Regions from separate parts of the Homo sapiens genome. Here regions 2 and 3 are each linked to region 1. Evidence: fine-mapped QTL for protein levels in blood plasma. Region 1 holds a variant in brackets. A gene starts in each other region. All regions are shown on their forward strands. Region 1 overlaps IFIH1 (interferon induced with helicase C domain 1). Region 2 holds the start of BST2 (bone marrow stromal cell antigen 2). Region 3 holds the start of IFNL1 (interferon lambda 1).

The links. PIP is the posterior inclusion probability: the model's chance that the variant is causal. Protein levels are from antibody-based Olink assays in UK Biobank. Linkage for the fine-mapping came from a reference panel and not from the study's own genotypes, which makes the PIPs less certain.
Region 2: it holds the start of BST2, and the variant in region 1 is fine-mapped to the plasma level of the BST2 protein (UK Biobank, PIP above 0.99).
Region 3: it holds the start of IFNL1, and the variant in region 1 is fine-mapped to the plasma level of the IFNL1 protein (UK Biobank, PIP 0.96).

What each region holds. Positions count from the first base shown.
Region 1 is chr2:162,307,126-162,315,304 of GRCh38, forward strand. It overlaps IFIH1 (interferon induced with helicase C domain 1), which reads right to left. Exons shown (of 16, transcript NM_022168.4): 2 at 3,640-3,808. Among named protein-coding and RNA genes, the nearest start is that of IFIH1, 7.5 kb to the right of the region's middle. The variant C/G (reference allele first, on the strand shown) is at 4,111.
Region 2 is chr19:17,401,605-17,409,783 of GRCh38, forward strand. BST2 (bone marrow stromal cell antigen 2) reads right to left here and starts at 4,026. Exons shown (of 5, transcript NM_004335.4): 1 at 3,687-4,026; 2 at 2,767-2,833; 3 at 2,525-2,585; 4 at 2,076-2,220; 5 at 1,335-1,722. The coding sequence starts at 3,971. The coding sequence ends at 2,091. It overlaps BISPR (BST2 interferon stimulated positive regulator), which reads left to right and starts at 4,082. Exons shown (of 4, transcript NR_130766.1): 1 at 4,082-4,167; 2 at 4,473-4,692. It also overlaps a transcript of MVB12A not described here. RefSeq lists a silencer at 1,513-1,681 and enhancers at 3,205-3,943, 3,928-3,987, 4,058-4,437, 4,628-4,687, 4,738-4,787 and 2 more.
Region 3 is chr19:39,291,752-39,299,930 of GRCh38, forward strand. IFNL1 (interferon lambda 1) reads left to right here and starts at 4,656. Exons shown (of 5, transcript NM_172140.2): 1 at 4,656-4,841; 2 at 5,054-5,131; 3 at 6,213-6,356; 4 at 6,462-6,545; 5 at 6,640-6,922. The coding sequence starts at 4,671. The coding sequence ends at 6,765.

The DNA of each region.
Region 1 (8,179 bases):
TCGAAAGGCTTAGAATGTGCTTTTGTTATGGCAAGGTACTTTTAATTTTAATATGGACACAACGAGTAGTTCTTTGTAATGATTAGACTGTAGCTAAAAAAACAATATAAGCATTATGCTAATCACAAGAAAAGTGATTTCCTGTCTGACCGTCATGTTTAGGAAGTAAGTCACTTATTCAGTGACACAAAGTTACATTTAAGGCTGAATTAATGAAAATGCAAATTTGGTAGTTTTCTTTAGCTTTGCTCTTGCCATTTTGTTTCCTCACTGTGTGTTCTGCACGAGACGTACATCTGCTTTAATGTCAGCCTATATTCATGTATTCTGAATTTCTGGGGATTTTTAAAACATTTAATGAAATATTTTGTGCCCCTCTTTTCTTCTTTCCTCCATTCCTCACTTCCAGCTTTTCTTACTTCAACTACATGTAATGGGTATTTTATTAAGGGCTTATGTGGGTTAAAAAGAAAATCAAGAGTTTTTGCCTTTATGAAGCTGCAATCTGTCAGAGAAGACTGATGCCATAAGGAAAATTTTCTAACGTATCATTTTTTATTATCTCATCTTAAAGAACCCAGTGAAAATGTGCCCCACTTTGTATGGAAAATTTCCTAAAGAAAACTGTTGTGACTTTGGACAAGAAGAAAACTTGGCAATGTTTGCAGTTAGATATTAAGTACATTAGGGACTATTATAATAGTTAATTTATTTTGCACTCACAATATAAATACTTTACATACATTAAGTTATTTAAGTCTCAAAATAAACCTAGATGGTAAGTAATATTATTGTCTCCATTTTACTGAGGTGATAAGTAATATTATTATCTCCATTTTACTGAGGAGTAAACTGAGGCATAGAGAAGTCGAGAACCTGGCCAAAGGTCACACATTCAAGGAAGGAGCCTGGATTTGATAAGCATCAGGATCCGATATGTATCAGGACCCAGAGTCTAAGCTCCTACAGTAGTCTGTTTATGCTGCCATAATAAAACACCATCAACTGAGTGGCTGAAACAACAGACACTTCTTTTCTCACAGTTCTGGGCACTGGAAGTCCAAGATCAAGGTGACAGCAGGGTCAATGTCTGATGAGGACTCTCTCCTTGATTTGCAGATGGCCACGTTCTCCCTGCGTCCTCACACGGTTAAGAGAGAGAAAGAGACAGATGTTTCTCTTTTTCTCTTTCTTCCTCTTCTTAAAAGGCCACAATTCTATCAGATTAAGGCCCCATTCTTATGATTCATTTAATCTTTTTTTTTTTTTTTTGAGACGGAGTCTTGCTCTGACACCCAGGCCAGAGTGCAGTGGCATGATCTCGGCTCACTGCAACCTCAGCCTCCTGGTTCAAGTGATTCTTCTGCCTCAGCCTTCCAAGTAGCTGGGATTATAGCTGCATGCCACCACCCCAGCTAATTTTTGTATTCTTAGTAGAGATGCGGTTTCGCCATGTTGGCCAGGCTGGTCTCAAACTCCTGACCTCAGGTGATCCACCCGTCTTGGCCTCCCAAAGTGCTGGGATTACAGGCGTGAGCCACCACGCTTGGCCTGGCTCATTTAATCTTAACTATCTCCTACTATCACTGTCTCCAGATAGAGTCATATTAGGTTCCAACATATGAGTATTAGGAGGACAAAATTCCATCTGTAGCATTTTACCATTGGCTTCCCAAAATTCATATCTTTACTACATACAAAATACATTCATCTCATCTCATCAGCCCAAGTGCCTTAACTCACTGAAGCATGAACTCTAAGTCTAAAGTCAAAAGTCTCACCTAAACATTGTCCAAATCAGACGTAGATGAGACTAGAGGTGTGATTCATGATAAGGCAAATTCATCACCAGCTGTGAACTTGTGAAACCAGTTGAGCTACATGTTTCTTTTCCATAATACAATGGTGGGACAGGCATAGGATGGACGTCTTATTCCAAAAAGGAGATATAGGAAAGAAAGCAAGGGTGATGGGTCCCAAGCAAATCCAAAACTTATTAAGGTAAATTCTGTCACATCTTAAGGCTTATAAGGCTTGAGAATAGCTCTGTTTGGTTTGATGCTCTGCCTTCCAGGTCCACGGAATGGCAGGTTCTAGGGCTCTGCAAGACAGCCTGCTCTCTCTAAGGGCTCCATCCACACAGCTTTCTGTGAGGATAGCTCTGCTTCTGAGACACTAGGCAGGGTCATCCTGAGGGCTCACTAAAACCAGAGAGACAGTTTTGCCCTTTGAAACCAAAAAGGAAACTGCCTTGGCCTCTGGGTCTGTGGTGGAAGTGGCAACCCTGATGACTTCTGTATCACTTTTGGGGGCATTCTTTCCTTTCCCTGAAGAATAGTACACATTCACAGCCAAATAGCTCTATGGTCTGGTTCTGTAGAATCCAGAAAGTCCAGTATCCTTTTCTCATTCTGTCCTGCTTTCTCTGTCTCCTTCAGTTCAAACTGGAAGTGTATTTGCTGGTATAATATATCTCTACTCCTACCTTCTGCTGAAATGGCTGATTAAGTCCATCAGTAGCACCCATGATCTTGTTATCAATTGGTTGTTCTCTTTATAACACAATTTCTCATTTTTTGCCATATGGATAGGCTGAGAATTTTCCAGATATTTAAATTTTGGTTCCTTTTTGCATAACAACTCCTTCAATTAATTTCTCTTCTTTTGCATTTTACTATAAGCAGTTAGGGGAAATCAAGCTGCTCCTTCAGCATTTTGCTAAGAAATTTTCTCAGCCAAATATCCAAATCCATTACTTGTGAGATCAAGTTTTATCCCATTTTATAACAAGGATCACCTTTCTTCCAGTTTCCAATGACATTTTTCTCATTTCTCTCTGTGACCTCACCAGAATCACCCTGAACACCCATATTTCTACCATTCACCCAAAACTCTTACAGTCTCTATCAATTACCCAGTTCCAAAGCCACTTCCACACGTTTAGGTGTTTGTTACAGCAGCACCCCACTTTTTACAGCAAAGTTTTCATTAGTTAGGGTCACCAGAACAAAACTGCAATGATTATAATTAATTAATAGTTAACTTTCAATTTGTCTTTCATATGATATTTTTGGAAACATAGGATGCATACTACGAAAAGAAAAATAAGATAGCAGTTTAAGTGAGATTTACAAATAATGTAGGAGAAGGAGCTATAAAATGTTATGTTATTACTATTATTGAATGCTGTTTAAAATCTCACATTAGGTAAGGTTGAGATATATTGACAAAACAATCCTTTTATCAAATGCTTAATACATTGCTTAAAATGTATAAAAATGTTCAGAAGAATATGCAGCAGATTTTTTATAACCACTAAAATACTTTCTTCCAATGTATTTGTGTATATTTAATGTTACATAATCTTGATAAAATTTCTGGTAGTCATATTGTTTTTAAAATAAGGTAGTAGAAAGAGTGTTGGTTGGATGAAAAATGGTCTTTGATCAGTTGATATTTTCCCAGGCATCAATTTCCTCATTTGTTAAGGTGATAAAATAGATGATCTATCACATATGTTCCACTCTTAAAATTTTGATTCTAAAAATCTTGGTGTTTAGCATTGTGTCTTTCTGCTTTATTGAATTCTCAATCACTAGGCAGAATTTGAAGAATCTTCCTCAGTAAAATTACAAATACCTGCATTGCTTTCTGAGCAATCAGAGCCTGTTAACTCTTGGACAAGTTCATTGTTTCCTGTTTGACGAAGAACATTCAGAAATGCAGAGAACCAGTTTTCTTTCTGCACAATCCTTTTTAGTAGCTCTCTTACACCTGATTCATTTCCATTGTTTTCTGCAGCAGCAATCTGTTGTAAGAGAAAATTAGAATTAAGTAAGATCAAACATCTTCTGAATAACCTTAAACAGGAAATACCCTTTAGAAAAACTGAGCAATTAAGCATAAGTATAAATAAAGGCTTACATTGAAACATTGAAGAAAATAGCAATGTTACCTGTAGCAATTCTGAAGTCGGCAGGGAAAAAAATCTCCGGGACAACAACAACAACAACAACAAAAATCTCTGGACCAAGTGTCCTTTTAAATATGAACCATTTTTTTTAAAAGCTATTGAATTATTCAAACCTGACACCTAGAAAATAAATTTTA[C/G]CTCAGCCATTCCTGAATAAAGGATAGAAGAGAAAGTATCTTTAGTCTGCAGCCATGTTATGTCTATTTTCACCAATTTCTTTCTGTATATCTAGGGCTGGCTATATTTTTTCAATCTATGGAGTCTGTAAATGGGAAATCAAACATTTCTTATCTCCTTTCTTCATGATTATCATTATGAAATAAGTAATTACTACTGCAGATTTATATTTTTTCCTATGTAATATTTGCATAGTTGATTATTACTATAATCAATTTTTCTCAAATTTGTGTTTTTTTAATGTTATGGGAAATTTATTGTTATATCTTTTTTTTGGAAATATGGGGCAGAATTATTTTTATATCCATTCATTAGAGTCTTTAGCCTTCTTTTATTTTCTCTTTTAGATTAGTAAATTTCTTTTAAATGTGGATCTTTTGTGTAATCATTGTCACAGTGCATTTCCCTAGGTCCTAATATAGCAATAAGGATTTGGAGGAAAGAGTAACTCAAGCCATGTTTAGACATGAAAGAAGTTAGGCAGGACATCATTAGCTTTCTGTGGCATTAGGCAATTTACTTCATCTCCCTAGACCTTGGTTACAATATGTGGTTACAAGGCAGCTGAAAAGAAATTTCAGAGTTTCTATATCTTAGCTGCATGTTAGAAACAACCGTAAAGCCTTAAAAAATACTGATGTCTAGGAAACACCCCTAAAAGATTATGATTTATTTTGTCTATGTTAGGAACTCAGATATTAAAGAAAAAGTAAAACATCTCATGTGATTCTATCAGCCTCCCAGATAAGAAATATTGACTTTGATATTATCAAAGGTCCTTCTCAACATTTGCCAATCTTCCACATGTATCATTTGGATTGTTTAGTTCTTTCCTACAAATTTATGTATTTTCTAGTTCTATAAATATATTCCATAACCTTTTATGTCAGAAATTTGTTAACATTTTTGGAACAATGTCTGGCACTAATTCAGTGTTAGAACTATTATGGATGATTGGGAAGAGTTATTGTTACAAACACCTCACCTGCACAAGCACATACAGCATGGTCTCTACCCAAGGGATATTTCCGTCTTAGCATCTAGTAGTTAAGCATGCTGTTCTAGGGAACTTGAATATATTAACCCAGCAGCCCAGAAATAGGTACCAATATTAACTCATTTACAGATCAGAAATCCGAGGCACAGAGATGTTTAGGTACCTCTCTGAGGTCACAAAGTGAGTAAGTGGCAGAAGTAGAATTTGATCCCAGGCAGTTGAATTTAGAGGCTGAATCCTGCCTTCTTGAACTATAATTATAGCTTATAATTTTCTCCAATTTTAAATTCATTTTCTGGCAAGAAGTGGTTAAAAATAACTATTTGAACTCAGTAAATTTCAAGTGAATTCAGTCCATGTCACCCACAACATTTTCTAAGCAGATTTTTGCTCATTTTTTACCATTTTTTTCTAGCTCTCTTAGTCTCCTAATGGAAATTCTTTGGCTTCCCTGATGTTGTAACATCTTTATTATCATCTGCTAATTTAACAAGTAATTGCTATAGATGTAAATAAGACTGGTTTCAGTGTCTTCTTTTAACTCAGCCATTCTCATATTTTATTACCCCATCCTTTAATCAGCTTTAAATATATTTGACTGAAGCAATCAGGAAGGATTTCCTTAAAAAGAACCAGTGAGGCAACAAATGCTGTTATTAAAAATCCCTAAGCATATTCTATCCACAAAATTTTCTTCAACCACTATTCTATTAAGTCAACTTTTACTGTGGAATCATATTTTTCAAGCTTTCTTTGCCGTTATTGAGTCCAAGCATATAAGGATCATGATGTCATTATTTCCTAAACATATTCTTACAATTTGAATGTGGAACTACATATATCTGTGCAATTTTAGCAGCCTCATCAAGATGCTGAATTTTTAAGAAATCTTCTCAGTTTTGGTGCTGGAAAGTACATCAGCTCCCTTTGAAGCAATTATATAATTTTAAAAATTTAATATGTTCTCCTAAAACATTGTAAAGATATTGATCCCAATATGTAAACACAATTACAGAAATTCGTGGGAGGTGAATATTTACATTTGAGACTGCAACAAGTCATAAAACAATTCTCACCCATGCCCCTCCCCCACTCGAAGTTTTCTCTGTGAAGTTAAAAATGGATGGATGTTTTCACTATGTAGTCTATTAATACATTGTTAACTAATTTATGAAATACGAAATAAAATTAATTTGGTAATAATACAACTCAATGCTTTCATATTCTAAATTCTTTGATATGTTTTTTCTTTCCAACAGAAATCAGTGAAGAAACCAATGACATTTCCATAAAGCACTGGCTTACCAACACAATTGTACAGTTTAATGAAAATGTTTTCTTCCCTTTATAATAACCTTAGATAGCTATTTAAATATAATGGTGATTTTTTTAACCCAGCAGAGTTCAACTCTCAGATAAAAGTAAATCAGGAGGCAAAACCTGTATGTTAAAAAAGAATTTTAAAGAACCAGTTTCCCACAAAAAGTTAATGTCTTAACCCAATGAATATTTATTGTCACATTGACATAGCTAATTTCTTATTCATACTTTTTTTTTTGCAGATGAAATTCTTATCTTTCCTAATTTGCCAGACAATACAATGTTCCTGGGGAGATTGACTTGGGTGCTCAACTTCATGTTGGGAGAACTGGACTGTTCTTAGGTGGACTAGTCATGGCATCTCTGGTTCTTCTGTGTAAATGGAAGGTGTGTGGAGTCTCCAGGACTACAGATGCATTGTGTTCTGAACTGGCCAGGGATGAAACATGCATCTCTCTTTAGCTGTTCAGCTTGATTATTAAGACACTATGGAAATGTTTATATGATCACTTTCGTTCCCAGAGTTCATGACTGCCTAAATTGATGGGTGTGCCAAGTTGTAACTTAGTTATAACTAAGATGTAACAATGCCAAATTGTAACTTAGCATCCTAAAAGAGGAGCAAGGCAGTACAGGGGTACCCCCTTACCATTAAGGATTGCTTTATTATAATGATTGATAAAATGGCATATATTTATTGCTGAAACTCTAGTATTTAGAATAGTCCCTTGTATACAGTAGACATTCTTCTTTCCTTCCTTCCTTTCTTCCTTCCTTCCCTCCCTCCCTCCCTCCCTCCCTCCCTCCTTTCTTTCTTTCTTTCTTTTCTTTCTTTCTTTCTTTCTTTCTTTCTTTCTTTCTTTCTTTCTTTCTTTCTTTCTTTCTTTCTTTCTTTTTCTTTCTCTCTTTCTTATTAGATGGAGTCTCGCTCTGTCACCAGGGTGGAGTGCAGTGGCGCCATCTCAGCTCACTGCAAGCTCCGCCTCCCAGGTTCATGCCATTCTCCTGCCTCAGCCTCCCGAGTAACTGGGACTACAGGCTCCCACCACCACACCCAGCTAATTTTTTTGTATTTTTAGTAGAGACGGAGTTTTACCGTGTTAGCCAGGATGGTCTCCATCTCCTGACCTCGAGAGCCACCCTCCTCGGCCTCCCAAAGTGCTGGGATTACAGGCGTAAGCCACCATGACTGGCCTACAGTAGACATTCTTTTATCAACACTAATTAACACTACAACACAACTTCACGAAAGGACAAAACAGTCTCTGTGTTTTTCTCCTATCTTTTCACCACTAGCATGGCATCCGGCACAAAGATGCCACTCAATAAATTCAAACTGAATGAATGAGTGAATGAATGAATAAGTTTTTGGGTACTTGCTGGACACAAACCTATGTATAAAGTCATTTTCAGAAGGCCTGCTGTAATTACGGGCAGGGGCTAGGAAATGGGGTGGGAATCCTAAATTAAAATAATAGATCAAGTAGAAAATGTCTATGGGGAAACAGAAAAAGAATGAAAATACAAGACCATTTTATAGAAGTCTTGATTACTTAGTTAAATGCTATTTTAAGCCTTCAAAAAAGCAAATTTGGAAATCTTATTTTCATCATTCATCCATTCTCTAACGCCTGGCAACACAATTCAATACGTCATGTGTTTTCAACGCTTATTCCAGACACTTTCAGAAATAAATTCAATTAGTCTATCAA
Region 2 (8,179 bases), not on the chromosome of region 1:
GGGACCTTAGGATAGTACAGAAATCTGGGACAAGGGACTCCTGGCTCCATTACCACAAACAGGAGTTGGAGTTGCAGAGACAATGGCCGGGATTCCGGGAGAACTTGGAGGAAGTAAGATAACAGAGAAGGAAGGGACTATGGCATCTTTGAGGATCGAATAAGGTAGGTGAAGGGTCCGTCGGGATTGCAGCCCTCAATTGTGGAGAAGCAGAGAGACTCTCTGGGGGAGGGGTTCCCAGAGCTGGGTACTGCAGAATGAATAAGAGTTTGGGGAATCGGGCCAGGTGTGATGGCTCATGCCTGTAATCCCAGCACTTTAGGAGCCCAAGGTGGGTAGATCCCTTGAGGTCAGGAGTTTGAGGCCAGCCTGGCCAACATGATGAAACCCCTGTCTCCACTAAAAATACAAAAATTAGCCAGGTGTGGTGGTGTAGTACTGTAATCCCAGCTACTCGGGAGGCTGAGGCAGGAGAATCACTTGAACCTGGAAGGCAGAAGTTGCAGTGAGCCAAGATCGTGCCACTCTACTCCAGCCTGGGCGACAGAGCAAAACTCTGTCTCAAAAAAAAAAAAAAAAAAGAGCCGGGGGTGGTGGCTCATGCCTGTAATCCCAGCACTTTGGGAGGCCAAGGCAGGCAGATCACCTGGGGTCGAGAGTTCGAGACTAGCCTGACCAACATGGAGAAACCCCGTCTTTACTAAAAATACAAAATTAGCCGGGCATGGTGGCGCAAGCCTGTAGTCCCAGCTACTTGGGAGGCTGAGGCAGGAGAATCGCTTGAACCCGGGAGGCGGAGGTTGCGGTGAGCCGAGACTGCGCCATCGCACTCCAGCCTGGGAAACAAGAGCGAAACTCCGTCTCAAAAAAAAAAAAAAAAAAAAAAAAAAGAGAGAGAGAGAGAGAATCTGGGGGATGAAGCAGGGGGAAACATTCTGACAATGCATGGCCTGTGTGTGTGTACAGATCCCAGTTTAAATCCCAGCCCAGCATTTTCTGCAGGCGGGAAGGGAAGCAAGACAAGGTTACTCTCAGTTACAGCCTCAGTTTCCTCACTGGATCCCCAGGAATCAGGAGAGGCTCTAGGGAGGAGATGAGAATACAACACCTGGGAAACGGTGAGCCCTGATGAGGGTGCATAGTTCTTATGTTGATCCCAGCAGAGACAAGGGCTGGGAAGAACTGGGGTGGTGCCTCCCCGAACTCCGTGGGCTCCTGAAAACGTCCTGGAGCAGGGAAGGGAGGTGTCATCGTCAACGGGGTGTCCACTCTCACCTGCAGGGGCGGCCCCAACGCTTGGGTACTAAAACGATGATACTCCAGGAACTCGAGAGTCAGGTGTGCTCTCCCTCAAAGGAAGTGTTTATTTTTTGGAGCTCAAAGACCCCAGAAAAAAGCAACCCCCCCCGCAAAAAAAACCCATAACAACAGGCAGCACATGCCCCCCACACCGCACCCCATGCCCAATCTCAGGGTGGGAGACAAGAGGGGGGACTCATTGTCCGGAGGGAGGCTCTGGAGGGAGACAGCCCTGGGTCAACCCGACTGTGTCCCCACACCCAGGACTTCCCCATGGCCCCTCCAGACCTGCTCCAGAGGCCCTTCTCCGGCTACCCCGTGCTCTCCCCGCTAACCGTGTTGCCCCATGACCCGCTCAGAACTGATGAGATCAAGGGAATGTTCAAGCGAAAAGCCGAGCAGGACGGACCTTCCAAGATGTGCCTAAAGGACCAGAAGAGGGACTCAGGGCAGACTGGAGGCAGCAGACACTGGCCCCGCTCCAAGCCCGGCCCCAAGCCCCGCCCCCATCGCTAGACCCGCCCCACCCATCCATAAGCCCCTCCCCTCCATCGATAGACCCGCCCCCATTGATAGCCCCGCCCCATACAGCTATCAGCCCGTCCCCGATCCAGGGCATCCTTCTCACTGGATTCTCCCTCCTTCCCCAAGGCCCCTCACCTCTGCGCCCAGTCCCTTCCCCTGCAGCCTCTCTCTCTAGACTTCGGAGCCTCTGCTTCCCCGCCCCGCTTCCCCAGCTTTCTTCTCCCTCCCGGGGCCGCCCCCTCCTCACTGACCAGCTTCCTGGGATCTCACTGCAGCAGAGCGCTGAGGCCCAGCAGCACAATCAGCAGCTGGGGCGCCGCAGCGGAGCTGGAGTCCTGGGAGCTGGGGTAGTACTTCTTGTCCGCGATTCTCACGCTTAAGACCTGGTTTTCTCTTCTGCGGTACAGATGGCAAATCAGGCATCTGCTCGTCCTGGCTCCTGCCGCCCTCCCTGTAAGCCCACCGCCCCCGGGAGTTCCCCCCGCACCGCCCCAATCCAAGTCACCGGGGAGGGAATGGACAGCGGCCACCCATGGCTCTGTGACCCTAGGGGCTAAGTTATCCTTTTGTGGGACTCAAACTTTATCCCTTGGGGCAATGGGGATTTTGGGAGCAAAGGAGATCCTGGGTCTTGGGCTAGGGATGTGGGGGTGAGAGGAATGTGGCAGGTGGAGGGTAGCGGGGGAAGGCTATCTCTGACCTCAGTCGCTCCACCTCTGCAGACGCGTCCTGAAGCTTATGGTTTAATGTAGTGATCTCTCCTGGTAGGGTGGGAGGACAGAAACAGGGGGCGGGTCAGCATGTGGCCATGCTGGGGCCCTGCTCCACTCTGGGACAGAACCTCCCCCTTACCCCAACCTCCAGCCCTGGTCTCCCTGCCCCCACCCCCTCTTCCATACCTGACTCACCCCTCCCCGGCCCTCTCCCTTCTCCCTTTCTCACCCTCAAGCTCCTCCACTTTCTTTTGTCCTTGGGCCTTCTCTGCATCCAGGGAAGCCATTAGGGCCATCTAAGAAGAGTTAGAATCTGGGGTTTTGGCCTGGGGAGTTTGGCTGCTGCCCCTGGGACCTGGGCCTCCTCCCTAGGTCCTGGGGACAGAGGGGCTTAAATGCAAACCCCTTTCAGGTTTTCTTCCAACCCTCTCTGCACCATGGTCTCCAACCTTAAAGAACAGCCACAACCACACACTCTCCCAGGGCCACCCATAAGCATGTGGGTCCTCAAAATGGGAGTTTTGAGGCCACCCCACGTGGAAACTTGGAGGCTATCGATAACCAAAGTTTAGTGGACATTTCCAGATTGCCTGAGCAATGGCCCAAGAAAAGTTAGAGGGCCCTACCAAATCCAGAATGCAGTGGGATTTCCCCGCCCAAGTGACATGCCCAGCGAGAGTTTCAAGATCCCCCATATCAGGACCCAGGTGAATATTTCAGTTTCTTAGGGATGAAGTGAAAATTTCAAAAGCCCCCTTTTTCAGGGTCTGGTGAGGTCCCCCTTCAACCCTGAATAGGGATTTCTACTCCCCCAGGACTGGTGCCCACGAGGAGTTTCAAGGCCCCCGACACCAGTGCCCTGGAAAGAATTTATAAATTCACCTAAGTCCCAGGGGGATACTGAGGTCCCCGATTTGGGGGATCTGGAGAGTTTTAACACCCTGCCCCTACACCAGTGCCCTGGACTGGGTTAGGGGCCCACAAACCCTGGTAGGGGAACCTAGGTCCCTTGATGTGGGGGCCCAGGAGCAGTTTCAGGACCTCCCCTGCATCTCCCTGGAGACCCACCCTGGGTCAGATTTCTGGGGAGAGATTCTTGTCCCTCCCACCGCCTAGTACTAGGCCATCCAAAGGAGTTGAGGAGCTTACCACAGTGTGGTTGCAGGTGGCGGCCTGGGCCTCCACATCCTGAAAGCCCTTCTGGGCCTCGGTCAGCTCTTGTTGCAGGAGATGGGTGACATTGCGACACTCCATCACTGCCCGAAGGCCGTCCCGGCAGGCCTCGCTGTTGGCCTTGATGGTGAAGATAATCAAGGGCACCCCCAGAATCACGATGATCAGGAGCACCAGAATTCCTATCCCCAGCAGAAGCTTACAGCGCTTATCCCCGTCTTCCATGGGCACTCTGCAATAGTCATACGAAGTAGATGCCATCCAGATCTCCCCTTTAGAGTCTGGCCTGGAGTTAGGGGAGGGTGCTGGAATCTTCTACGGGCCACCCCTTTATTAGCATAGGAAACGTCCTGACCAATAGCAAGTTCCAGGAAGTGCTCTGACCAGCAGCTCTTGCATGAGGCACCTACAGGCAGAGGATTAATTAGGTTTTCAGTTTCAGTTTCCCAGAAAGGAGGTGGGCTTTTTTTTCACCCTGCTTTAAAAGCCCTTGGGCCCTTCCCAGCTGGGTGCCAGCCAACTGTGGCTGCCTGGGACACTCCATCTTAAGTCCCTGTGCCTCTGCTGTGTGTTACTGAGTGCCTAGGCCGTGCCAGCCTGTATTCATCTGTACTATGACCTGAAGAGGCAGAGGCCATCACTGTTGGTCCGGTCTCCACCTGGGGAAACTGAGGTTGCACAGTTGCGTGGTGGAGTGAGGGCAGGGCCTGGGTCTGGGGGCGGGGCCTGGGTCTGACCCCAGGGACTGGTTTTTGTGTTCAGGTGTCTCTGTGGTGACGAGCAGGGCTTCATCCAGTGCCTCTGTCCCCACCGAGGGGACTATGGGAGACATGGAGGGTGTGTGAGCAACAGGTGAGACTGGAGCCAGCTGAAAACTGGGAGACCGACCCAGCCAACAAACAATGTCGGTCTCTGTCTTGGCACCTGCAGGAAACAAGCTCCTACTTCCAGAAAAAGTGCTCCTGGGACTCCAGGATACCAGGTAAACTCTCTGAGCCTGTTTCTTCATCTGCAAAGGGGAATAACAGGGCCAGCCTCAGACACTGTCCATGTGGCCAAGAGAGCCAGGGCTTCCTACAGGAAATCAGGCCCATTATCGGCACCCAACTGCTGGGCATGACCGCTGAAAGGGGACTGCATGTTTTTCTTGTGGCTTCTTCAGCCACATCCTGACCACAGCCCAGATTCTGTTAGGTCTGCCATTTCCATGTTTTTTTTTCTTTTCAGCAGGGCCAGACAGTAGGCGAGGTCAAGTCCAGAGCCCAGGCCTCCCAGAAGGCCTGGGGAACTCCCCCCAGGCCCTGACTCCAACATCCCTCAGAAGGACCCCATTAAAGCCACTTAGAGCCAGGCATGGTGGTACATGCCTGTGGTCCCAGGCTGAGGCTGGGAGGCTGAGGCAGGAGGATCACTCGAGCCCAGGAGTTTGAGGCTGCAGCGAGCTATGATTGTGCCACGGCACTCAAGCCTGGGTGATAGAGTGGGATCCCATCTCTTAAACCAATAAACAAAAAAATCACTTAGAACCAAGAACCAATTAACAAGCTGTGGGAGATGATCTTGCTGAAAATTCTGAGGGTGAACTTGTCCCAGGAGGAGGGACCTACCAGCCTGGCCAGGACTCCAGGTGCAAAGACACGACCTTTGCCTGACTTATTTGACTAAGCTGACTTATTTGAGCAGCACTGTTCTGGCCTGCTAACTTTAGGGTTAGTTTGGGACCAGGTCGGAAATCACAATTGCATGAATTGCACATTGGAGGCCAGGGTGGTGCACCTCTGGGCAAATGAATTTCCTCTCTTAGCATTGATTTCCCCAGCTGTAAAATGTGGATAATAATAGATTGATGTCCTCTCTAAATTTTGCAGCTGTAAACAGTCCCAGCCCTGCAAACCGAAAGTTTGTTGCTCTTCCCTTTAAAATTACTGTAGGGACCAGCCCCACAGGGTCAGTGGGTCTCTCCCTGTGTGCGGCGACGAGAGAGTGTAGAAATAAAGACACAAGACGAAGAGATAAAAGAAAAGACAGCTGGGCCCGGGGGACCACTACCAGCAATGCGCGGAGACTGGTAGTGGCCCCGAATGTCTGGCTGTGCTGTTATTTATTGGATACAAAGCAAAAGGGGCAGGGTAAAGAGTGTGAGTCATCTCCAATGATAGGTAAGGTCACGTGGGTCACGTGTCCACTGGACAGGGGGCCCTTCCCTGCCTGGCAGCCGAGGCAGAGAGAGAGAGAGGGGACAGACAGAAAGACAGCTTATGCCATTATTTCTGCATATCAGAGACTTTTAGTACTTTCACTAAATGACTACTGCTATCTAGAAGGCAGAGCCAGGTGTACAGGATGGAACATGAAGGCGGACTAGGAGCGTGACCACTGAAGCACAGCATCACAGGGAGACGGTTAGGCTGCCAGATAACCGCGGGCGAGCCTGACTGATGTCAGGCCCTCCACAAGAGGTGGAGGAGCAGAGTCTTCTCCAAACTCCCCCAGGGAAAAGGAGCCTCCCTTTCCCGGTCTGCTAAGTAGTGGGTGTTGTTCCTTGACACTTTTCGCTACCGCTAGACCACTGTCCGCTCGGGCAACGGGCGTCTTCCCAGACGCTGGCGTCACCGCTAGACCAAGGAGCCCTTCTGCTGGCCCTGTCCGGGCATAACAGAAGGCTTGCACTCTTGTCTTCTGGTCACACCTCACTATGTCCCCTCAGCTCCTATCTCTGTATGGCCTGGTTTTTCCTAGGTTATGATTGTAGACCGAGGATTATTATACTATTGGGATAAAGAGTAATTACTACAAACTAATGATTAATGATATTCATATATCTCTAAGATCTATATTTGGTATAACTATTCTTGTTTTATATTTTATTATACTGGAACAGCTCGTGTCCTCAGTCTCTTGCCTTGGCACCTGGGTGGCTTGCCGCCCACAATTACAAATGGTGGGATGGGTGCAGTGGCTCATGCCTGCAATCCTAGTACTTTGGGAGGCTGAGATGGGAAGATTGCTTGAGGCCAGTAGTTCGAGACCAGCCTGGTCAACATAGAGAGATCCTATCCCTATTTAAAAATAAATATATATATATATTTTAAGTACATATATTTATTTTATTTTGTTTTAATTAATTAATTAATTAATTAATTTTTTTTGAGATGGAGTCTCGCTCTTGTTGCCCAGGCTGGAGTGCAGTGGCACGATCTTGGCTCACTGCAACCTCTGCCTCCGGAGTTCAAGCGATTCCCCTGCCTCAGCCTCCTGAGTAGCTGGGATTACAGGCGCCCACCGCCATGCCTGGCTTATTTTTGTACTTTTAGTAGAGACAGGGTTTTGCCATGTTGACCAGGCTGGTCTTGAACTCCTGACCTCAGGTGATCTGTCTGACTCAGCCTCCCAAAGTGCTGGGATTACAGGCGTGAGCCACTGCACCTGGCCTATATTTTATTTTATATTTTTAAATATATAATGTATTTTTATATATTGGTTGGTGCAAAAGTAATTGCGGTTTCTGCCATTACTTTTTTTTTTTTTTTTTTGAGAGGGAATCTCTCTCTGTCGCCCAGGCTGGAGTGCAGTGGTACGATCTCGATCACTACAACCTCTGCCTCCTGGGTTGAAGCGATTCTCCTGCCTCAGCCTCCTGAGTAGCTGGGACTACAGATGCCTGCCACCATGCCTGGCTACTTTTTGCATTTTTAGTAGAGATGGGGTTTCGCCATGTTGGCCAGGCTGGTCTCAAACTTCTGACCTCAGGTGATCCACCCAACTTGGACTCACCAAGTACTGGGATTACAAGCGTGAGCCACCGTGCCCGGCCTATATTTTATTTTATATTTTTAAATATATTCTCCCTCTGTCACCCAGGCTGGAGTGCAGTGGTGTAATCTCGGCTCACTGCAACCTCTGCCTCCTGGGTTGAAGTGATTCTTCTGCCTCAGCCTCCTGAGTAGCTGGGACTACAGATGCCTGCCACCATGCCCAGCTACTTTTTGTATTTTTAGGAGAGACGGGGTTTCGACATGTTGGCCAGGCTGGTCTCGAACTCCCGACCTCAAGGGATCCACCCGACTTGGCCTCCCAAAGTGCTGGGATTACAGGCATGAGCCACCGCTCCCAGCCTCTGCCATTACTTTTTTTTTTTTTTTTTTTTTTTTGAGATGGAATTTCACTCTTGTTACCCAGGGTGGAGTGCAATGATGCAATCTTAGCTCACCACAACCTCTGCCTCCTGGGTTCAAACAATTCTCCTGCCTCAGCCTCCCTAGTAGCTGGGATTACAGGCATGCGCCACCATGCCCGGCTAATTTTGTATTTTTAGTAGAGAGGTTTAGGTTTCTCCATGTTGGCCAGGCTGGTCTCAAACTCCCGACCTCAGGTGATCTGCCCGCCTCGGCCTCCCAAATTGCTGGGGTTACAGGCTTGAGCCACCGCACCCAGCCTTTTTTTGTTTTTTTCTTTGAGATGGAGTCTCG
Region 3 (8,179 bases), not on the chromosome of region 1:
CTGGGGATTAAACTTTTTTTTTTTTTTTTTTTGAAACAGAGTCTCACTCTGTCACCCAGGCTGAGTGCATGATCTCAGCTCACTGCAACCTCCACTTCCCGGGTTCAAGCGATTCTCGTGCCTCAGCCTCCCGAGTAGCGCCACCACACCTGGCTAATTTTTTGTATTTTTAGTAGAGACAGGGTTTCACCCTGTTGGCCAGGCTGGTCTTGGACTCCTGACCTCAGATGATCTGCCTGCCTCGGCCTCCCAAACTGCTGGGATTACAGGTGTGAGCCACCACGCCCAGCCCTTATTTTTTTTTTTTTTTAATTTGTAGAGATGAGGTCTTGCTATGTTGCCCAGGCTGGGCTCAAACTCCTGGGCTCAAGCAATCCTCCCTTCTCAGCCTCTCAAAGTGCTGGGATTATAGGCATGAATAATCGTGCCAGGCCAAAGACAAGTTTTAACAGTCAGCTCTCTGGCCACAAATTATTTATATTCCTTCCACATGCAAAATAGACTCATGTCTTTCCTCAACCTCAAAAATCTCATCTACTATGGCAGGCTCAGATGCAAGCCCCAGGATCTCATCATCTAAATCAGATCCAAGTGTTGGGGAGGCTACAGTATTGCCAGCATATAGACCCTCGAGCACTTCTGGAGAGAGGGATACAGGTGCAACTATTTGGGAGAGCAAAGGATGAATATGTAGAGCTGTGCTGCCCATCATGATAGCCACTAGCCACATACAGTAATTAAATTTAAATAAAATGAAATAAATTGAAAATTCAGTTCCTGCATTGCACTTGCCAAATTTTAAATACCTAACAGCCACATTGGACCGTAAAGATGCACAATATTTCTGTCATTGCAGAAAGTTCTAATGAACAGCACTGATTAGACCATATAAGCACAGGTATGCCCTGTGACCCAGCAATCTTCAGTTCAGGTTCTCCCAAAAGCATATCCTGAAGCCAAAGATGCAGGTGGCTTATTTGGGAGCTGTTTCCCAGAAGCACAAGCGAGTGGGGAAACTGAGCCAGGAAGAGCAAAAAGCCAATAAATGGTGCAGAGTCTGGAGTAGAGGGAGGCACCTAGAGCACTTCCCTGACTCAGAGTGAGCACCTCCTTAATTTTTGTTTGTTTGTTTGTTTGTTGAGACAGAGTCTCACTCTGTCACCCAGGCTGGAGTGCTGTGGCACAATCTCGGCTCACTGCAGCCTCCGCCTCCCAGGCTCAAGCGATTCCTGTGACTCAGCCTCCTGAGTAGCTGGGTTTACAGGCACATGCCACCACACCCAGCTAATTTTTGTATTTTTAGTAGAGACAGGGTTTCACCATGTTGGCCAGGCTGGTCTCGAACTCCTGGGCTCAGGTGATCTGCCCACCTCGGCCTCCCAAAATGCTGGGATTACAGGTGTGAGCCACCACGCCTGGCCCCCTGCTTAAATTTTGACTCTGGTCCCCTAATTTGACCCACCCTAATTCCAGCCCCCAAAAAGGCTACTGCTGTGAGCAGCTAGAAGTCATTTGTTCTGGGGACAGTCAGAAGATCAAGGAGTCATGTAGAAGTCGCCCGAGAATTGACCCTCCAAGGGAAAGGGAAGCTGCAGTATTTATTCCATTGCTTTCAGCCCTCACTGTTTGAGGACTGCTACTGGGGGAATCAATCCTGCTACTTCCAGTCCATTCTGCATGTGGGCAGTAGAAAGGCCTTGGTCTCCAGCAGAGAAGCAGAAAGATCCAAGCACGTGAGGCAGGAAACTGTCAGCCTGTGTGGGAACTGACCACCATATCCACAAGCCGAGGGGATACAGTAGAGGGCATCAGCTGGTGTGCTACCGTATATTCCAGAAAGCCGCCCACCCAGAGGACAGGTGTGAGCCTTATGGTAATGGGGAGCTAGAGGCAACCTAAGTGTCCATCACTGGGGGAATAGGTAAGTAAAAGTGCTGTGGTTGTATACACCATGAAATACAGTGCACAGGAAACTTGATGTACACAGCTTGTGAAGAGATCTCAGAAGCAGTGTTAAGTTAAAAAATAAAAAAGAAAGAAGTAGAAGATTTATAGCACAATTCCACTTATGTAAATTGGAAACACATACACACACGAGATCACAAATTATAAAGATACATCTTTGCAGCTATTTATCAAGTGCATTATAGTGGGTGTCTGTGGGGGTGCGATGGGAATGGGAATTGGCAATGGAGGAATAAAAGCCTTGGAGGGTCTTTCATGGGCCAATTGTGATCCTGTGTTATGATCTGAAGAGTATGATTAATAACTTTCTGCACCAAAGGGCTAAGAAAAAAAATAAAGGAGTGAAAATAGGAAATGTCTGCACATCAGAGCAGTTTCTTACCTGCTACACAATTACTATTACTGCAGGGATGATGATAGCAAGGCAACCAGACTCACCGCCTGCCTTCTCTCCAGGCAGCCCCTCCAGTCCCCAGGAAATGCGCTTGCCCCCAGCGAATAAGGAGTTCCCTACCCCTCTCATGCTACCCAGAGGGACAGAAAGGAGAAGTGGGCCTGCTACCCCCAGAGGTTCTCATCTTCTACCTGGGCTGCATATGGAATAGGGAGCAAGTACATAGGACTCATCATACCCCATTTCTGCCTCTATCCCACTGTGGGACCTTAGGCAAGTCACTTTGCCTTCCTATGCCTCAGTTATCTCACTAGTAAAATGGGCATGATTATTGTATTAGTCAGGGTTCTCCAGAGAGACAGAACAAATAGGATGTTTGGATAAATAGATGATAGATAGAGAGATATAGACTAGATAGATGAGAGAGATAGACTAGATAGAGAGAGAGAGAGAGAGAGAGAGAGAGAGAGACTAGATAGATGAGAGAGAGATAGGAGGGGATTTATTAGGGGAATTGGCTCAGACAATTAGGGAGGCTAAGAAGTTCCACAACAGGCCATCTGCAAGCTGGAGAACCAGGGAAGCTTGTAGTGCAGCTCAGTTCCAGAATAAAAGCCTCAGGACTTAGGGGGTAGCTAGTGCAAGTCCCAGCATTTTTTTTTTTTCTGAGATGGAGTCTCACTCTGTTGACCAGGCTGGAGTGCAGTGACATGATCTCAGCTCACTGCAGCCTCCGCCTCCAGGGTTCAAGCGATACTCCTGCCTCAGCCTCCCAAGTAGCTGGGACTACAGGCCTGTGCCACCACGCCTGGCTGATTTTTATATTTTTAGTAGAGATGGGGTTTCACCATGTTGGCCAGGCTGGTCTCGAACTCCTGACCTCAAGTGATTCACCTGCCTCAGCCTCCCAAACTGCTGGGATTACAGGCGTGAGCCACCATGCCCAGCTGCACATCCCAGCATTCAAAGACCAAAGAGCCTGGAGTTCTGATGTTTAAGGGCAGGTGCAGGGTGTCCCAGCTCATAAGAGAGAGCAAATTCTCCTTTCCTCTGCCTTTTTGTTCTATTCAGGCCCTCGGCCAATTGGATGGTGCCCACCACATTGGGTAACAACGGGTCTTCCTTACTCAGTCCATTGATTCAAATGCCAATCTCTTCTGGAAACACCCCAGAGTCATACCCAGAATTAACGCATCACCAGCTATCTGATAAACTTAACCAGTCAAGGTGACACCTAAAATTAACCATCACAATTATAAAAATAACTACTCAGAGAAACATTAGGAGCATGAACTGAAATTAGTTAATGGGACATTCTTAAACCAATGGCAGAAGCTCCTTCTTGGCCAGGAGCAGTGGCTCATGCCTTTAATACTAGCACTTTGCGAGGCTGAAGCAGGAGGATGGCTTAAGGCCAGGAGTTCAAGACTGGCCTGGGCAACATAGTGAGACCCCTATCTCTACAAAAATAAATAAATAAATAATAAAGTAAGGTGGTGGCTCACGCCTGTAATCCCAGCACTTTGGGAGGCCAAGGCAGGCAGATCATCTGAAGTCAGGAGTTCGAAGCCAGCGTGACCAACATAGTAAAACCCAGTCTCTACTAAAAATACAAAAACTAGCCAGGCGTGATGGCATGCACCTGTAATCCCAACTACTTAGGAGGCTGAGGCAGGAGAATCGCTTCAACTCGGGAGGCAGAAGTTGCAGTGAGCCAAGATTGCACCATTGCACTCCAGCCTGGGCAACAAGAGCAAAACTACGTCTCAAAAAATAATAATAACAATAAAATAAAAAACAAGCTTTTTTTTTTTTGAAACAGGATCTCACTCCATCACCCAGGCTGGAGTGCAGTGGCACGATCTTGGCTCACTGCAACCTCCGCCTCCCGGGTTCAAGTGATTCTCATGCCTCGGCCTCCTGAGTAGCTGAGACCACAGGCGCATGCCACCACACCTGGCTAATTTAGAATAAAAAAGAAGCTTCCTCTCTGCCACTCAGGTAGCCTTATCCCTAATCTCAGCCTCCGTCAGGGACTCCCTGAGGCCAGTTGGCTGAAAGCTGCCCAGGGAGTTCTAAGGATTTCAGTTTCTCTTTCCTTCTTGATGCAGCTCCCAGCTCACTTGGCCCTGCCCACACCTGTTCCCTCATCAGGCTCCCAGACGGGCCCCGCCCACTCATGCCTCTTAAGTCAAAGTGGAAATTCTCATTTCCAATTACCTTTTCACTTTACACACATCATCTTGGATTGCCCATTTTGCGTGGCTAAAAAGCAGAGCCATGCCGCTGGGGAAGCAGTTGCGATTTAGCCATGGCTGCAGCTTGGACCGTGGTGCTGGTGACTTTGGTGCTAGGCTTGGCCGTGGCAGGCCCTGTCCCCACTTCCAAGCCCACCACAACTGGGAAGGGCTGCCACATTGGCAGGTTCAAATCTCTGTCACCACAGGAGCTAGCGAGCTTCAAGAAGGCCAGGGACGCCTTGGTGAGTTCCTGTTGCTGTGGATGAACCACTTCTACGGGTGTCCCAATTACTGCCCTTCTACTGTGGGCTAGCCTCTAGCCTTCCAACTATGGCAAACCTCTATCCTTTCTGCACTGGGTTAAACCCATGCTGTCAGGCCAACTTCATCCTTGCTGCTATGAGCTAGCTTCCAGCCATCCTGCTGTGGGCTAACCCCTGCCCTTGCTCTCTAGGAAGAGTCACTCAAGCTGAAAAACTGGAGTTGCAGCTCTCCTGTCTTCCCCGGGAATTGGGACCTGAGGCTTCTCCAGGTGAGCTGAAAGTCAGGCCCCCTTCACCCTTCCCTTGACCCTCTCCCCCCTCTTCTTAAGTGGCCCCTTAGCCTTCTTTGTTTCCCTTGTCCTTCACTCTCTTGGACCTCTCCTCACCTGTCCTGTGCCCCTGCCACTTCAAAACTGCTCTCTTGACTCTGTCCTTCCCCTGGGTCCCTTTTATCATCTCCCATCGGCCCCACTTCCCTAGCTCGCTCACCTGTCCCTGTCACTTCCACTCTCACTCTTCATTTCTCTCCCAAATGTCTCCAGTCTGTCGCCCACCTGTGCCTTTCGTCCTGCTCCACTTCTCCCTGTCTGTTCCCAACACTGACCCCCTCTCCCTCTCACCTGCCTCTGTCACCTGTCCCTCATTATCTCTCACTGACATTCATCCAGCTCATGCTCCCCCCTCATCCACCCTTCTCTTTTTTTTTTTTTTTTTTTTTTTTTTGAGACAGAGTCTTGCTCTATGGCCCAGGCTGGAGTGCAGTGGCATGATCTCGGTTCACTGCAACCTCTGCCTCCCGGGTTCAAGCAATTATCCTGCCTCAGCCTCCCGAGTAGCTGGGATTACAGGCATGTGCCATGATGCCCAGCTAATTTTTGTATTTTTAGCAGAGACGGGGTTTCACTATGTTGGCCAGGCTTGGTCTCGAAATCCTGACCTCAGGTGATCCACCCGCCTCGGCCTCCCAAAGTGCTGGGATTACAGGCGTGAGCCACCACACCCAGCCCTACCCTTCTTCTCTGTGCATGCAACTGTCCCTCTCTTACTGTGCCCCCAACCTGCTTTCTCCTCACCCGTCCCCACCCCGCCCCAGAGAACTTCTGTGACCCCCGTAAGTCCCCTTTCATTTGTCTCCATTTCACTTATCCCCTCACCTGCCTCCTTGACCATCCTGCCTCACCTGTATCCTTCCTCATGTCTTCCCCCTCCTGTCTCCTTCTCCCCAGACCCCTCACCTGTCCCCACCACATGCACTGTGTCACCGACCTTCCCCAGGACTGCCTACCTGTCCCCACTAACTGGGTCTTCTTGCCTGTTCTCCCTCACCTGCTCTTTCTCACCTCTCCTCAGGTGAGGGAGCGCCCTGTGGCCTTGGAGGCTGAGCTGGCCCTGACGCTGAAGGTCCTGGAGGCCGCTGCTGGCCCAGCCCTGGAGGACGTCCTAGACCAGCCCCTTCACACCCTGCACCACATCCTCTCCCAGCTCCAGGCCTGTGTGAGTCCTTGGGGCCCGGGCACCCAGGTCTGTGGGCTCTGAGCAGCATCCTTCCCCTGTGGTGGCCCAGGCTCCGCCTCACACACCGCCCTCTTCTGCCCACAGATCCAGCCTCAGCCCACAGCAGGGCCCAGGCCCCGGGGCCGCCTCCACCACTGGCTGCACCGGCTCCAGGAGGCCCCCAAAAAGGTGAGTGACCCAGGAAGAGAAGGACCAGGGTCTGGGGAGCCAATAGGAGCCCAGACCCTGGACAGCCCCTGACCCATCCCCTCCTCCCCTACAGGAGTCCGCTGGCTGCCTGGAGGCATCTGTCACCTTCAACCTCTTCCGCCTCCTCACGCGAGACCTCAAATATGTGGCCGATGGGAACCTGTGTCTGAGAACGTCAACCCACCCTGAGTCCACCTGACACCCCACACCTTATTTATGCGCTGAGCCCTACTCCTTCCTTAATTTATTTCCTCTCACCCTTTATTTATGAAGCTGCAGCCCTGACTGAGACATAGGGCTGAGTTTATTGTTTTACTTTTATACATTATGCACAAATAAACAACAAGGAATTGGAACCTTCTGTGATAGGTGAATCCTTGAGTGTGTGTGTGATTGTGGGTCTGTGACTGGGTGTGGATGTCTGGGTGATGCAGGCAAAATTTGTGACTCGTTGTGTATATTTGTGTGTGCCTGACTTCTGTGACTATGTATGTATTTGTATGGAAATGAGTGTCTGCCTGAACTTGAGTCTAACCAAAGGTGCGTAACTGTGCATGTTCATGCCCACACGTGTGCAAGTATGTGTGTGTACTGCCAGGCATGGTGGCTCACACCTGTAATCCCAGTGCTTTGGGAGGCTGAGGCAGGCAGATCACTTGAGGTCAGGAATTTGAGACCAGCTTAGCCAACATGGTGAAACCCTGTCTCTACTAAAAGTACAAAAATTAGCCGGGAGTTGTGGCATGACCCCGTAATCCCAGCTACTCGGGAGGCTGAGGCAAGAGAAATGCTTGAACCCGGGAGGTGGAGGTTGTGGTGAGCCGAGATCACATCACTGCACTCCAGCCTGGCCACCAAGAGAGAAACTCCATCTTAAAAAAAAAAAAAAAAAAAAAAAAAAAAAAAAAAAAAAGGCCAGCCTCCGTGGGCTCAGGCCTGTAATCCTAGCACTTTGGGAGGCCAAGGCGGGCAGATCACTTGAGGTCGGGAGTTTGAGACCAACCTGACCAACATGGAGAAACCCCATCTCTACTAAAAATACAAAAATTAGCCGGGTGTGGTGATGCATACCTGTAATCCCAGCTACTCGGGAAGCTGAGGCAGGAGAATCGCTTGAACCCGGGAGGTGGAGGTTGTGGTGAGCGGAGATCACGCCATTGCACTCCAGCCTGGGCAACAAGAGTGAAACTCCGTCTCGAGAAAGAAAAAAAAAAAAAGAAAGAAAAGAAAAGAAAAGCGGTCAGGATGCTACATCCTGGAACCTAACCACAATGGTGTGAGAAGCCCAGACATACAGAGAGACCACATATAGGTACTCCATCTGATAGTCCCAGTATAGCTTTTGAATCACCCCAGCTCAGGAACCAGACATGCGAGTGAAGAAGCATTTAGATGACTCTAGGTCCCAGCTGGAGCAGAGACAAGCCATCACCACTGGGCCCTGATTAAGTTCCTGACCCACAGAAACTGTGAGCATAATAATATTTGTTTTACGCCACTAAGTTGGGTTTGTTATAAGGCAAGAAATCATTGAAACAGTGAGAGAGCCACCAGCCCATCACAATTCACTGTGAGGTGTGTCACAAGAAATTTATTACCAAAATAACTCATCA